Regions from separate parts of the Homo sapiens genome. Here region 2 is linked to region 1. The links come from fine-mapping of genetic effects on gene expression. Tissue or cell type: whole blood. Region 1 holds a variant in brackets; the other region holds the start of a gene. All regions are shown on one strand. Distances are from middle to middle.

The links. PIP is the estimated chance that this variant, and not a neighbour inherited with it, causes the effect.
Region 2: NT5E starts here. The variant in region 1 is fine-mapped to the expression of NT5E in whole blood (INTERVAL, PIP 0.92).

Annotation. Positions count from the first base shown.
Region 1 is chr6:85,379,473-85,382,230 of GRCh38, forward strand. No RefSeq gene overlaps it. Among named protein-coding and RNA genes, the nearest start is that of LINC02535, 24 kb to the right of the region's middle. The variant G/A (reference allele first, on the strand shown) is at 1,449.
Region 2 is chr6:85,448,772-85,451,529 of GRCh38, forward strand. It overlaps NT5E (5'-nucleotidase ecto), which reads left to right and starts at 1,312. Exons shown (of 9, transcript NM_002526.4): 1 at 1,312-1,707. The coding sequence starts at 1,369. RefSeq lists a silencer at 1,105-1,374.

The sequences.
Region 1 (2,758 bases):
TAAAGGGATGGAGGAAGATCTACCAAGCAAATGGAAAACAAAACAAGGCAGGGGTTGCAATCCTAGTCTCTGATAAAACAGACTTTAAACCAACAAAGATCAAAAGAGACAAAGAAGGCCATTACATAATGGTAAAGGGATCAATTCAACAAGAAGAGCTAACTATCCTAAATATATATGCACCCAATACAAGAGCACCCAGATTCATAAAGCAAGTCCTTAGAGACTTACAAAGAGACTTAGACTCCCACACAATAATAATAGGAGACTTTAACACCCCATTGTCCACATTAGACAAATCAATGAGACAGAAAGTTAAAAAGGATATCCAGGAATTGAACTCAGCTCTGCACCAAGCAGACCTGATAGACATCTACAGAACTCTCCACCCCAAATCAACAGAATATACATTCTTCTCAGCACCGCATCACACTTACTCCAAAATTGACCACATAGTTGGAAGTAAAGCACTCCTCAGCAAATGTAAAAGAACAGAAATTATAACAAACTGTCTTTCAGACCACAGTGCAATCAAACTAGAACTCAGGATTAAGAAACTCACTCAAAACTGCTCCAGTTTTTATATCCAGATATAATATCCAGAATCTACAAAGAACTCAAACACTTCTCAAAAGAAGACATTTATGCAGCCAACAGACACATGAAAAAAGGCTCATCATCACTGGTCATCAGAGAAACGCAAATCAAAACCACAGTGAGATACCATCTCACAGCAGTTCGAATGGCGATCATTAAAAAGTCAGGAAACAACAGGTGCTGGAGAGGATGTGGAGAAATAGGAACACTTTTACACTGTTGGTGGGACTGTAAACTAGTTCAACCATTGTGGAAGTCAGTGTGACAATACCTCAAGGATCTAGAACCAGAAATACCATTTGACCCAGCCATCCCGTTACTGGGTATATACCCAAGGGATTATAAATCATGCTGCTATAAAAACAAGTGCACACGTATGTTTTTTGCAGCACTATTCACAATAGCAAAGACTTGGAACCAACCCAAATGTCCATCAATGATAGACTGGATTAAGAAAATGTGGCACATATACACCATGGAATACTATGCAGCCATAACAAAGGATGAGTTCATGTCCTTTGTAGGGACATGGATGCAGCTGGAAACCATCATTCTCAGCAAACTATTGCAAGGACAGAAAACCAAACACTGCATGTTCTCACTCATAGGTGGGAATTGAACAATGAGAACACTTGGACACAGGAAGGGGAACATCATACACTGGGGCCTGTCATGGGGTGGGGTGAGGGTGGAGGGATAGCATTAGGAGATACACCTAATGTAAATGACGAGTTAATGGGTGCAGCACACCAACATGGCACATTTATACATATGTAACAAACCTGCACGTTGTGTACGTGTACCCTAGAACTTACAGTATTAAAAAAAAAAAAAAAGAAAACCACAGGAAT[G/A]GAAAACCAAACACCGCATGTTCTCACTCATAAGTGGGAGCTGAACAATGAGAACATATGGACACAGGGAGGGGAACAACACACACCAGGGCCTGTCGGGGGTTGGGAGTAAGGGGAGGGAGAACATTAGGACAAATACATAATGCATGTGGGGCTTAAAACCTAGATAATGGGTTGATAGGTGCAGCAAACCACTATGGCACATCTATACCTATGTAACAAACCCGCATGTTCTGCATGTGTATCCCAAAACTTAAAAAAAAAAATAAAAAAATTAAAAAAAGAAGTGTGTTTGGAAAAAAAAAAGTGACTAGGTAAAAAAAAAAAAAAGGCTGGGCACGGTGGCTCACGCCTGTAATCCCAGCACTTTGGGAGGCCGAGGCGGGCGGATCACAAGGTCAGGAGTTCGAGACCATTTTGGCTAACACGGTGAAACCCCGTCTCTACTAAAAATACAAAAAATTAGCCGGGCGCGGTGGCGGGCGCCTGTAGTCCCAGCTACTCGGGAGGCTGAGGCAGGAGAATGGCGTGAACCTGGGAGGCGGAGCTTGCAGTGAGCCGAGATTGCGCCACTGCAATCCGGCCTGGGCTAAACAGCGGGACTCCGTCTCAAAAAAAAAAAAAAAAAAAGAAAGAAAAGAAAAGAAAAAAAAGAGAGAATGAAACTTGGGTATCATCTAATCCAATCTCTTCTTTTTATCACTGTTTGAATCAAGGCCCAGAAAGACAAAGTACCTTGACTGAAGTAACTTATTTTTGTACTTCTTGTATTTTACTGGGTTCATTCATTTACTCTTAGATTGCTTCAAACAATTCAAGAAAACTGGTACTTGAGAAATTAAAATATGTTGAAAAAATGATTTTTTTGCCTGAATTTAGAATAAAAGAAAAGGAAGAGGAAACTCATCAAAGGTAGACAGTCATTAGACCTCTAGTTCTGGCCTACCTAAAAATATTTTTATGTAAGTGAGAACTGACATCAAAGACAAAATTAAAAGAGCAACATTACCATTATTTTGGGCATGACCTTGAAATATTAGTAAATGAATTCTCTACATTTAAGCCTCCAAGCTCCAATTTACATACTTAGTCAACAGACTTGTTTAAAGGTAAGATTTTATTTTAATTGGTTCAATCTCAGTGACAAACTTGTAGCCTAAAAGCATCCTAGCCTGATTTTCACATAATCTAGCCATTAACTTAATTCACTGGCTTTAAACTTATGCCATAGTCCTCATGTGATTGATGTTTATAAATTTGCACTAGTTGGCCAGGCGCGGTGGTTCACGCCTGTAATCCCAGTAATTTGG
Region 2 (2,758 bases), 69 kb after region 1:
TGTGGGAACTCCCTTTATTACCTTTGCAACTTTTCTGTAAGTCTAAAATCATTCTTTTTTTAAGTTAAAACAGCAAAACTACCAGTTCTTTTACCTGCTTCTAGCAGGTGCTCAAAGAGGGACAGAGCAAAACCTTGCAAAGCATGACATTAGAGGGTGTCCCAGAAGCAAGGGTCTTCTGTAGCCCCAGGCACTGCTGCTCCCAAACTGCATGGCCTTTCTTGGCAAATGATTTACAATCTCCGAACCTCAGGTCAATGTCTTAAAAACGGGCACAGAATGTCTTTTCAACAAATGGTACTAAGAAAACTGGATATCCACATGAAAAAGAGTAAATGTGGACTCATACCACATATGAAAATTAACTCAAAATGGATTAAAGGTCTAAGAGTTTAAATTATAAAACTCTTAGGAGAAAACATAGAGGAAAATCTTCCTAACATTGTATTTGGCTATGACTTCACTGCGACACCGAAAGCACACGCGACAAAATAAAAATAAAATAAAATAAAATAAGACCAGAAAAGCAAAGAAGGGCAGCATCCCTTCCCGTCCTGATAGCTGCCGGATTTTACCCCAATCGTGTTTCTGCTTCCAGGAGCTGTCCGCGCGTCGCCTCTGTTTTATCACTAAGGTTTTAATTGTGAATAAACAAGGAACTGGATTCGAATGATTTCTTAGTTTCTGAGATTTTTTTGTCTAAGCATCGTAGACTTCGTGCGTTCTCAACCCAACAGGAAGCGTCACATCTCAGTGAGCTTCGGCTCTCACAGCCCGAAACTGCAAGGAGCTCCTCTGCCCGGCCTCTCTTTACTCCTCCTCTCTGCCCCTCAGCTCGCTCATCTTTCTTCCCGCCCCCTCTCTTTTCCTTCTTTGGTTCTTTGAAGTGATGAGCTAGCGCAACCACAAACCATACATTCCTTTTGTAGAAAAACCCGTGCCTCGAATGAGGCGAGACTCAGAGAGGACCCAGGCGCGGGGCGGACCCCTCCAATTCCTTCCTCGCGCCCCCGAAAGAGCGGCGCACCAGCAGCCGAACTGCCGGCGCCCAGGCTCCCTGGTCCGGCCGGGATGCGGCCGGTACCCGCTCCCCGCCGGGAACAACCTCTCCACTCTTCCTGCAGGGAGCTGGTGCCAGCCGACAGCCGCGCCAGGGCCGCTCCGGGTACCAGGGTCGGATCGGGTGACGTCGCGAACTTGCGCCTGGCCGCCAAGCCGGCCTCCAGGCTGAAGAAGGACCCGCCCCGGCCTTGACCCGGGCCCCGCCCCTCCAGCCGGGGCACCGAGCCCCGGCCCTAGCTGCTCGCCCCTACTCGCCGGCACTCGCCCGGCTCGCCCGCTTTCGCACCCAGTTCACGCGCCACAGCTATGTGTCCCCGAGCCGCGCGGGCGCCCGCGACGCTACTCCTCGCCCTGGGCGCGGTGCTGTGGCCTGCGGCTGGCGCCTGGGAGCTTACGATTTTGCACACCAACGACGTGCACAGCCGGCTGGAGCAGACCAGCGAGGACTCCAGCAAGTGCGTCAACGCCAGCCGCTGCATGGGTGGCGTGGCTCGGCTCTTCACCAAGGTTCAGCAGATCCGCCGCGCCGAACCCAACGTGCTGCTGCTGGACGCCGGCGACCAGTACCAGGGCACTATCTGGTTCACCGTGTACAAGGGCGCCGAGGTGGCGCACTTCATGAACGCCCTGCGCTACGATGCCATGGTAAGACCCGAGCCCGCGCCCGGGATAGTAGTCCCGGACTGAGAGAGGAGCCGGGCTGGAAAAGCAGCGGATGGCAGAGTGTGGCAAGCCTAGGTCCAGGGCGCGGAGAGATGTGGGGATAAAGTGAGACTCCGGCCAGTGTGCCAGCTGGATGCATAGAAGTCCCTTGGACGATTCGTCTTAAACGGACGTTATTGCGCCCCCACTATGAGATGGGAGTATTTAGAGGAGCAGGACCCAGTCCTGCCTGCGAGGGGCTTAAGGTGGGGTGCGTAGAAGCACTGACAGTTATCCAGAGCTAGGGACTGAATCGGATCCCTCACGCAGCTCTCATTTACTGCTAGATCTTTCAAAGAATGCTTTATCTCAATCTAGATCTTTCGAAAAATGCTTTATCTCAATCTTATTGAAAGGGAAACCGCGTCGAAGAAGCTGAATAAATTAACAGGCACCATCCCCGCAAAAAGGGAGACGTGATAAGAATGGACACCAGATCTCTTTGACCCCGGAGCTTGAGAGTAATTAAGCTCACAGCTTTGGGGTAGATTCTCTGTTCAATTACCTTCTATGTGACCTTGAGCAAGTTATTTACTCTTTCTTGCCTCAGTTCTATCCTGTATAAAAATAAGGATTATAATTGTACATAGTGCACATAGTGTGGTCTCTATATTATTACCAGACACATAGTGTGGTGTCTATATATGTTGTTATTACCAGACACTATAATATAGGGTTAAGAAAAGGAAAGAAAGAAAGAAAGAGAAAGAAAGAAAGAAACTTCAGAGAGAGCCAAAATGTGGAAAGACTTGGGTTTCAAAGGATTTCAATAAAGTAGGTTTGGCGGCAGAGATTTAGGAAGAGTCCAACTTAAGAGATAATGGGCTCTTAAAACATGTGCAAAAGTTTAGTTCAAAGTCCCAAATGTTAGGTTAAAGGTAATGCCTTTTCTATTGCACTAAATTCTAGAAAGGGAGCAGAGGTGGTTGCACAGTAATAAATAAGTACAACCAAGATGTATATATGGTGGTTAAAAAAAAAATAAAACCACCAC